Linked DNA regions of Homo sapiens: region 2 is linked to region 1. Evidence: fine-mapped expression QTL. A gene starts in region 1. The other region holds a variant in brackets. All regions are shown on one strand. Distances are between the middles of the regions. Region 1 holds the start of NUDT13 (nudix hydrolase 13). Region 2 overlaps PPP3CB (protein phosphatase 3 catalytic subunit beta).

What was found. PIP is the estimated chance that this variant, and not a neighbour inherited with it, causes the effect.
Region 2: its variant is the best candidate, but not a certain one, in a credible set for the expression of NUDT13 in whole blood (TOPMed, PIP 0.57).

The regions. Positions count from the first base shown.
Region 1 is chr10:73,107,805-73,113,191 of GRCh38, reverse strand. It overlaps NUDT13 (nudix hydrolase 13), which reads right to left and starts at 2,737. Exons shown (of 9, transcript NM_015901.6): 1 at 2,625-2,737.
Region 2 is chr10:73,454,111-73,459,497 of GRCh38, reverse strand. PPP3CB (protein phosphatase 3 catalytic subunit beta) reads left to right here. Exons shown (of 14, transcript NM_021132.4): 10 at 5,009-5,086. Among named protein-coding and RNA genes, the nearest start is that of MSS51, 23 kb to the right of the region's middle. The variant C/A (reference allele first, on the strand shown) is at 2,319.

The DNA of each region.
Region 1 (5,387 bases):
AGAAGGGCTGGGTGCGGTGGCTCACGCCTGTAATCCCAGCACTTTGGGAGGCCGAGGCGGGCGGATCACCCGAGGTCAGGAGTTCGAGACCAGCCTCACCAACATGGAGAAACCCCATCTCTACTAAAAATACAAAATTAGCTGGGCGTGGTGGCACACGCTTGTAATCCTGCCTACTTGGGAGGCTGAGGCAGGAGAATCGCTTGAACCTAGGAGGCAGAGGTTGCAGTGAGCAGAGATCGTGCCATTGCACTCCAGCCTGGGCAACAAGAGCAAAACGTCGTCTTAAAAAAAAGAAAAAGAACAAATAGAAAATAATATAACAGTGAAAAAAATATATATATATAGTAACAGGGAGAGAGACTTAGAACACATTATTAAGTAAACAAAAAAAGCAAGGAGGAATTGGAGGTGATACTAGTCAAAGTGTACAAAGTTTCAGTTAGGATGAATAAATTCTGGATATCTATTGTGTTGTATGGTAACTATAGTTCATAATATATTATATACTTGGAAATTACTAAGAAAGTAGATATTAAATATTCTCAACACACACAAAAAATGTGAGGTGATGAATATATTAATTTGCTAGATTTAATCATTTCACAATGTATACCTGTATCAAAACATCACATTGTAAACTATAAATATATACTTTTTTTGTCAAAAAGTATATATTATACTTTAATACCTTAATATTATACCTTAATAAAGCTGGAGAAAAAAACAGGTAACAGTTGGTTAACATGACCTAATTATTTATAAAAAAAAGGACACAGACATACCAATATACATAAATTATATGTATTTAATTATATTTTTCTTTCTATTTTTTTTTGAGACGGAGTTTCGCTCTTGTTGCCCGGGCTGGAGTGCAATGGCGCAATCTCGGCTCACCGCAACCTCCACCTCCCGGGTTCAAGCGATTCTCCTGCCTCAGCCTCTCGAGTAGTTGGGATTACAGGCATACGCCACCACGCCTAGCTAATTTTGTATTTTTTTTAGTAGAGATGGGGTTTCTCCATGTTGGTCAGGCTGGTCTCGAACTCCTGTTCTCAGGTGATCTGCCTGCCTGGGTCTCCCAAAGTGCTGGGATTACAGGCAAGAGCCACTGCCCCCGGCCTTATTTATATTTTTCAAATGACTAGAAGTATACATACCAAACTATTAAAGAGTGACTAATTTGGGGGAGTGGGATGAAGACAAATATTGAAAAAGGTGCCTGTAATTTTTATTTTGTTCATTTTTCTGTACTGAAAAAAAAATTAGCCATGTGTACTTATTCCTTTTAAGACAAAAGAAAAGCCTAATAAAATAGTAGTTCCTGAGACTAACTGGTTAATGAGGCTACCTCCATGCCACTGTTCCCCAAAACACCTCACCATATTCCATGAGCCAAAGGGAATTCATTTGGTGAGTTTCTTGGACCTTGGGAACTGCTGCCTGATGTTTTGCCTAGTTTCTGCTACTAAATTAACCTTAGCCAGTTGTAGATTATCATGGCTGCTGACTCATGAGCTGATGGTCACAGAGCTATTTATGTTTTTAAAAGTACAATGTTTGATAGAGATGAAAGGTAATAGCAGTCTTACCCAACTACTAAATGATGAGGCAAGGTGCTTTAACATTAAGAGTTTCTTTGAACTCCCCAACACAAATGATTCACACGTTTCTTATCCTGTTCATCTTTCCAGAAGAAAGATTATAAAGTACTACAGCGTGACAAAAAAGCCCATCTTGTAGTGAGCCGAGATCGCGCCACTGCACTCCAGCCTGGGCGACAGAGCGAGACTCCGTCTCAAAACAAAAAAACAAAACAAAACAAGACAAAACAAAAAAAGCCCATCTTGAATCTAGTGGTTACTTCCACCGTGAAGAGGCCAGGTTCCCTAGTATTTAAGAGACCTTTTTTTAGGCCGGGCGCGGTGGCTCACGTCTGTAATCCCAGCACTTTGGGAGGCCGAGGTGGGCGGATCACGAGGTCAGGAGATCGAGACCATCCTGGCTAACACGGTGAAACCCCGTCTCTGTTAAAAATACAAAAAAAAGTGGCTGGGCGTGGTGGCGGGCGCCTGTAGTCCCAGCTACTAGGGAGTATGAGGCAGGAGAATGGCATGAACCCAGGAGGCGGAGCTTGCAGTGAGTGGAGATCGTGTCACTGCACTCCAGCCTGGGCGACCAAGTGATACTTCGCCTGTGTTTAGAGTCCGTTTCTCCACGACTGTGGACCTCCATGGGACAGGGAAATATGGAAAACTGAGGAACCACGGGAATACAGCTTTGAAGGTCTCACTGACCTGCTTTATAGTTTGCTTTCTAAAAAATAATTTTCCCTCCTTTAAAAAAAAATAAAAATTAAGGCACAATGTGAGAGGTTGGCAAGTTCCATTTTTAAATGACTCTCCAAAAAAGTATCAGAAAATGATGAGCTGTGGTTACTGATGTAGCTCCACAGTTATGAGGCAAAACTATGGTTATATCCCTGGTTTCTGCAAAAAGGAAGAGATTAAGCTAAAATGTTAAAATGCTGTGACCACGACCTTTTTTCAAGTTCTGATCATGCCTCCCTGTGAAGTCCTTCCTGCACTTAGAAGCTGAGCAGGTTTCTGTTTCACTGTACTCACTCTGAATTCTTTTCGGGGCACCTTCCTAGTCCTCAGGAATCAGCACAAAAGAGGAAACTCCAAATGTTCACGTTCAACGGCTTCCGTTCCCTGGAGGGACCATTGCTGCTTCTGCCACACTTCCCAGAATCCTCCTAGAGATGCACTCTGGGAATTGTAGTTCAGTTCCCAGGCATGCTGCTGTGTTCTCCAGCTGCAAGTTAACCATGATTGTCAAAAGCATGAACATCTAAGATCTTATTACCAAGAGAACTACTGTATCCTTGGAGAAAGTAGGTTAGTATTAGATCCATTTTTTAATTAAAAAAAGATAAAGTCATTAAGTCCACCCTCATACACAGAAGGCATATATTATGAGGCTGGGGAGAGGATGAAGCAGGGGTGGGAATCAAATACCTTTTAACCTTAGTATATCTCTAGTTCTCTCTCTGCACACTTTAGAACTAGCTCTAAAATTTCATGAAGTTCTTCCAATTTAAAAGGATGGGACTCTGTATAGGTATGTATAGATATGTTTGAACTTATGGTAGGATTCATTTCTTGATCAGAGGAAGCGCATTCCATTTGACTGGAAGTAGTCTCCTAGAAGTGTGTCCGGAGTTGGTTCCTTCCAGTGGGTTCTTGGTCTTGCTGACTTCAAGAATGAAGCCGTGGAGCTTTCGGTGAGTGTTATAGCTCTTAAAGGTGGCACGAACCCAAAGAGTGAGCAGCAGCAAGATTTATTGTGAAGAGCGAGAGAACAAAGCTTCCACAGCGTGGAAGGGGACCCGAGTAGGTTGCCGCTGCTGTTGGGGGTGCCAGCTTTTATTCCCTTATTTGTCCCTGCCCACATCCTGCTGAATGGTCCATTTTACAGAGCACTGATTGGTCCATTTTATGGAGTGCTGATTGGTCCATTTGACAGAGTGCTGATTTGTGCATTTACAATCCTTTAGCTAGACACAGAGTGCTGATTGGTGCGTTTTTACAGAGTGCTGATTGGTGCGTTTACAATCCTTTAGCTAGACACAGTGCTGATTGGTGCATTTACAATCCTTTAGCTAGACACAGAGTGCTGATTGGTGTGTTTACAATCCTTTAGCTAGACACAGAGCACTGATTGGTGCATTTTTACAGAGTGCTGATTGGTGTGTTTACAATCCTTTAGCTGGAAACAGAGTGCTGATTGGTGCGTTTACAATCCTTTACCTAGACACAGAGCGCTGATTGGTGCATTTTTACAGAGTGCTGATTGGTGTGTTTACAATCCTTTAGCTGGACACAGAGTGCTGATTGGTGCATTTTTACAGTGTGCTGATTGGTGCATTTACAATTCTCTAACTAGACAGAAAAGTTCACCAAGTCCCCACTCCACCCAGGAAGTCCAGCTGGCTTCACCTCTCAGCAGAGCTACTTTGGTGCTGCTCTCTTCTCGTTTTACTACTGAAGTTACTTGCCTATGAGAGAAGACACTTTTTTTTTTTTTGAGATGGAGTTGCTCTGTCGCTCAGGTTGGAGAGCAGTGGTACGTACAATCTTGGCTTACTGAAACCTCCTCCTCCGGAGTCAAGTGATTCTCCTGCTTCAGCCTCCCGAGCAGCTGGGATAACAGGTGCACACCACCATGCCTGGCTAATTTTTGTATTTTTAGTAAAGCCAGGGTTTCGCCATGTTGACCAGGCTGTCTTAAACTTCTGACCTCAAGTGATCCACTCGCCTCAGCCTTCCAAAGTGCTGGGATTACAGGCGTGAGCCACCGCACCCAGCCAAGAGAAGAAGTCCACTCATTCAACATGTATTTAATGAGTACCCAATGTGCCTAGGACTGTTATAGGGATAGGATACAGCAGGGAACAAAACATGAAAATCTCTGTCCTCATGTAACTTACATTCTAGAAGGGGAAACAAACGAGTAAATATACAATGTGTCGTGGTTATAAAGCTTAAGAAGAAAAATAAAGCAAGATAAGTAGAGGGATTATTTTGCTATTTTATATAGGATGGTCAGCCTCATTGTTAAGATAATATTTAAACAAAGACCCTGAAGAAGGTGATGAAGAAACCAAATTTATATCTATGGAAAGAGATTTGTAGACAGAGCAAAATAAGCATATGCAAAGGCCCTGGGGTGGGAGTGTGCCGTTTGAGGAAAGGCTAGGAAAGAGCATGGTGATCAGAGATGAGATCAGAGTAGGCCGGGCATGGTGGCTCATGCCTGTAATCCCAGCACTTTGGGAGCCCGAGGTGGGCACATCATTTGAGGTCAGGAGTTTTAGACCAGCCTGGCCAACATGGTGAAACCCTACTAAAAATACAAAATTAAGCCAGGTCTGGTGTCACATACCTGTAGTCCCAGCTACTTGGGAGGCTAAGGCACAAGAATCGCTTGAACCCGAGAGGCAGAGGTTGCAGTGAGCTGAGATTGCGCCACTGCACTCCAGCCTGGGTGACAGAGCGAGACATTGTCTGAAAAAAAAAAAAAAAAAATCAGATTGGTTCATTATCCTTAAGGAAGACACAGAAAATTGTAGGGAAACAAGATATAAAGTCAATGGATTCTAAGGATGCTTAGGGGGAAATTGGGGCTCTAATAATTTAAAAAGTCAAAATAACTTTTTGTAGTAATTGTTAAGTGCTATAATAATAAAAATAGCTCAGACTGAGCATTTGCTGTGTTCCAGGCACTATGCTAAGTGTCCCACATATTTGTCATTAATCCTCACATCCTATGAAATCTGTATTAAAATTTGTACTTTAGGCTACGTGTGGTGGCACACGCCTGTA
Region 2 (5,387 bases), 350 kb before region 1:
CATTTTCTTTTTGAGACAGAATCTTGCTCTGTCGCCCAGGCTGGAGCGCAGTGGCGCGATCTTGGCTCACTGCAAGCTCCGTCTCCTGGGTTCACGCCATTCTCCTGCCTCAGCCTCCTGAGTAGCTGGGACTACAGGTGCCCGCCACCATGCCCAGCTAATTTTTATATTTTTAGTAGAGACAGGGTTTCACTGTGTAGCCAGGATGATCTCAATCTCCTGACCTCCTGATCCACCCGCCTCGGCCTCCCAAAGTGCTGGGATTACAGGCGTGAGCCACCATGCCCGGCCTATGTTTTCATTTTCTTGAGTATAGACCTGGGAGTGAAATTGCTGGGTCATATTGTAACTCTATGATTAACCTTTTAAGGATCTGCCAAACTGTTTTCCAAAACAGCTGTACCATTTTATTGTTGTTGTTGTTTTTGAGACAGAGTTTTGCTCTTGTTGCCCATGCTAGGGTGCAATGGTGCGATCTCGGCTCACCGCAACCTCTGCCTCCTGGGTTCAAGTGATTCTCCTGCCTCAGCCTCCTGAGTAGCTGGGATTACAGGCACGCACCACCACGCCCGGCTAATTTTGTATTTTTTAGTAGTGACGGGGTTTCTCCATGTTGGTCAGGCTGGTCTCAAACTCTTGACCTCAGGTGATTGTCCCACTTCATCCTCCCAAAGTGCTGGGATTACAGGCATGAGCCACTGCGCCCGGCCTTAGCTGTACCATTTTACAGTTTCATCAGCAGTGTATATATTCTTTGGATGAAAAAATATATATATTTTAATAAATATACATTTTAATATATAAACATATACTTTACATATGTAAAATATATTTTAATATAGAAAATACATGTATATTTTAATATAGAGACAGGGTTTCGCCATGTTGCCCAGGCTGGTAACTCCTGAGCTCAAGCAGTCTACCCGCTTTGGCCTCCCAGGGTGCTAGGGTGACAGGCATGAGCTACCACACCCAGCCGAGGATGAATATATTTTCAAATCCTTTGCTTATTTTATAATTGGGTTATTTGTCTTAAAATTTTCTTTATTAAAAAATTTTTTTGCCAGGTGCGGTGGCTCACACCTGTAATCCCAGCATTTTGGGAGGCCGGGGCGGGTGGATTACCTGAGGTCAGGAATTCAAGACCAGCCTGGCCAACATGGTGAAACCCTGTCTCTACTAAAAATACAAAAATTAGCTGAGTGTGGTGGTGCGTGCCTGTAATCCCAGCTACTCAGGAGGCTGAAGCAGGAGAATTGCTTGAACCTGGGAGACAGAGGTTGCAATGAGCCAAGATCACACCACTGCACTCCAGCCTGGACAACAGAGTGAGACTCCGTCTCTAAAAAATAAAACAAAACATTTTTTTGTTGTCTATATAAATTTATGAAGTATAAGTGTAATTTTGTTACATAGATATATTGCATAGTGGTGAAGTCAAGGCTTTTAGTGTATCTATCACCAGACTAGCATACATTGTACTTATTAAGTAATTTCATCTTCCACACCTCTCCCACCTCTCTACCCTTCCAAGTCTCCTTTGTCTATCATTCCACACTCTACCTCCATGTACATATATTATTTAGCTTCCACTTATGAGAACATGCAGTATTTTTCTGTCTCAGTTGTTTCATGGGAGATAATTATTGAGTTGTGTTTTTTAGATATTCTATATGCAAGTCCCTTACGTATATGATTTACAAATAATTTTCTCCCATTCCACTTTCACTTTCTTTCTTTCTTTCTTTTTTTTTTTTTTTGAGACAGGGTCTTGCTGTGTCACCCAGACTGGAGTGCAGTGGTACCATCTTGGCTCACTGCAACCTCCACCTCCCAGATTCAAGCGATTCTCCTGCTTCACCCTCCCAAGTAGCTGGGATTACAGGCATGTGCCACCATGCCCGGCTAATTTTTGTATTTTTAGTAGAGACAGGGTTTCACCATGTTGGTAAGGCTGATCTCAAACTTCTGGTCTCAAGTGATCCACCTGCTCAGCCTCCTGAAATGCTGGGATTACAGGCATGACCCCCGGCCTAGCTGACTTTCACTTTCTTGATAATGTCCTTTAGGCTTTCACTCCATCATCTAGGCTAGAATGTTGGAGTGCAATCGTAACTCACTGCAATCTCAAACTCCTGGACTCAGGCAGTCTTACCGCATGGCCTTCCAAGTAGGTAGGACTACAGGCATGTCCTACCATGACTAGCTTTTTTTTTTTTTTTTTTTTTTTTTTTTTTCTTTTTTAGAGATGGGATCTTTGTGTTGCCTAGGCTGGTCTCACACAAATTACTAGGCTCAAGTGATCCTCCTTCTTCATT[C/A]TCCCAGGTAGCTGGGATTACAGGCACATGCTTCCATGCCTGATTTTTTTTGTCCTTTGAAGCACAAAAGTTTTCTAATTTTTTAAAAAAATACATTTTATTGTGTATATTTAAGGTATACATCGTAACAGCTTTATTGAAATATATATACTATGCAATTCATCTATTTAAAGCATACAATTCAGTTGGTTTTAGTATATTTCTAGAGTTGTGTAACCATCAGAAAGACTAATCTTTCTGTCTCTATAGATTTGCCTTTGCTAGACATTTTATATAAATAAGGTCATATGGTATATGGTATTTTGTGACTGGCTTCTTTCAAAAAGTTTTTTAATTTTGGTGAAGTCATATTTATCTGTTTTTTCCTTTGTTGCTTGTGTTTTTGTTGTTATACCTAAGAAATCATTGCCTAATCCAAGCTCATAAAGATTTGCCCGTTTTTTTCTGAGAGTTTTAGTTCTTACATTAGGTGTTTGATCCATTTTGAATTAATTTTTGCATGTGATGTGCAGTAGGGGGAGTGCAGTTTATTCTTTCGCATGTGACCATTTGCAGCTTTATTCTTTTGTAGTTGACCATTGTTGAAATGACTGTTCTTTAGCCACTGAATTGTTTTGGCACCCTTGTCAAAAATCAATTGACCTTAAATATCAGGTTTTCTTTCTGGACTCTCTGTTCTGTTGTGATAAATGACTACTACATCACTTTTTTAACTTCTGTTTAGAATGCCTTATCTGCCCTCTCCACTTGGCAAACTCCTAGTTCATGATTCCTCTCAAATGTTATCTAGCAAAAGCCTTGCCTTCCCCAGCAGGTCTTCCCCAGCAGGTCTTTTGCATATCTTTGAACACTTACAGCATGTTTTCCATCAACCTTTTGCAGTTGATATTTAATGTCTCCTTCAGTAGTTAGTAAGCTTGTTGAAGGTAGAGACTGTGCCTTTCATATCTGAATCCTAGAGCTTTAATGTAGTACTTGACATGTGGGGTGCTTTTAGTATATTTATTAGCAGGAAAAAGTGGTTTGTAGAAGTATTGAATTTTGTTTTGGATATGTTCATTTCTAGGTGCCTTCAGGACATCTAGGTGCTAATATTCAATAGACATTTTTATTTATTAATTGAAATTTGCTTTTATCTTTCTTATTTTGTGTACTTATTTGTTAGATATTTATTGAGTACCTGTCATGTGCCAGGGCACAGTGCCAGGCTCTGAAGTTATAATAGTGAATTAAACAACATCCTACACTCATGAAGTTTTCATTCTAGTAGGGGAAACATACAGTATACAAATGGTTTAAGACAGTTGACAGGCTGGGCGCGGTGGCTCACGCCTGTAATCCCAGCACTTTGGGAGGCCAAGGTGGGCGGATCACGAGGTCAGGAGATCGAGACCATCCTGGCTAACACGGTGAAACCCCATCTCTACTAAAAAAATACAAAAAATTAGCCGGGCGAGGTGGCGGGCACCTGTAGTCCCAGCTACTCAAAAGGCTGAGGCAGGAGAATGGCGTGAACCCGGGAGGCGGAGCCTGCAGTGAGCCGAGATCGCGCCACTGCACTCCAACCTGGGCGACAGCGAGACTCCATCTCAAAAAAAAAGACAGTTGACAATAAAACTAGCCAAGGACATCTAGAGCCTGAAGGAGAGGTCAACACTGGAGATACAGACTTTGGAGTCATCTTCAACGAGGTGATAATTGAAACTGTAAATATGATAATAGACAGAAATTCCAAGTGATTGAACATATAGGAGGAATAATAATGCAGAGAGAATCTTGAGGATATCCAAAGTTTTGGGGAAAAATGATCCAAATGTGGGAAAACCAGAAGAGCAGAATCTTGGGAACCAAGGGAAAAGAGAAGGAAAAAAATATACAGAATAGTCAAAGAGGATTAAGCCTATGAAAGAGCCAAGGGTTCAGATTGTTAGATAGTCATTAGTAATCTTTAGAAGTAAATTTCAAGAGAGTTGCTGAGCCAGTTTTTAAAAGATTAAGGCCAGGCGCAGTGGCCTACGCCTGTAATCCCAGCACTTTGGGAGGCCAAGGCGGGTGGATCATGAGGTTAGGAGTTCGAGACCAGCCTGACCAACATGGTGAAACCCCATCTCTACTAAAAGAAAAAAAAAAAATACAAAAATTAGCTGGGCATGACGATGGGTGTCTGTAATCCCAGCTCCTTGGGAGGCTGAGGCAGGAGAATCTCTTGAACCTGGGAGGCAGAGGTTGCAGTGAGCCGAGATCACGCCACTGCACTGCAGCCTGGGCAACAGAGCAAGACTCCATCTCCAAAAAAAAAAAAAGATTAAATCCTGAGACTTTTTGGAACCACTAAAACTCTGCCATGATTTTTTTTCTTATTATGCTATATCCATGAATGAAGATTTGAAATGTATACATTCAGTTGTTATTCATCTCTGTTCTTATCTCTATGGGGCTTCATTTTTTTTTTTTTTTGAGAGGCCTGAAAATTTGTTCCATAAAGAATCTCTTTCTCTCAGAGTTGTTATCCACTGAATTTCTTTCATTTTGAAAGCCTTTGCATTTTTAAATTCCATCGATCTTGGTATAAGAATGTGTTTGCTTTCTTGGGCTAAACATTATTTGACCATTTGTAAAAATAGTTGCTATGTGTATGTATAGACAGTTATATATGGTCAGCTAACATGTAACTTTTTTTTCCCAAATAGTGACAGAAATGTTGGTAAATGTTCTGAGTATTTGCTCTGATGATGAACTAATGACTGAAGGTGAAGACCAGTTTGATGGTATGATTATTCATCTTACTATTTTTTTTTTTACTGTGAAATGGTATTTCTTTACTGCCTAGCCTCAGTACACACTATTTTGCAAAAAATAGTCATTGCTTTCAGAGACTATGCTATTTGATAAGTAACAAGTTACTTTTTTTGGATATTAAGATTTGAAAATAATTTCAGTGATTTCATTTTTTTATTGTAATATGGGGAAGAAGATGAACTTTGGGAAAGGAGAAATTTGGAAGAAAGAAGATAAGGAAAGGAAAATTGAAGTGTTAAAAGGATGTAGTTCTTGGCAAATATGGACACT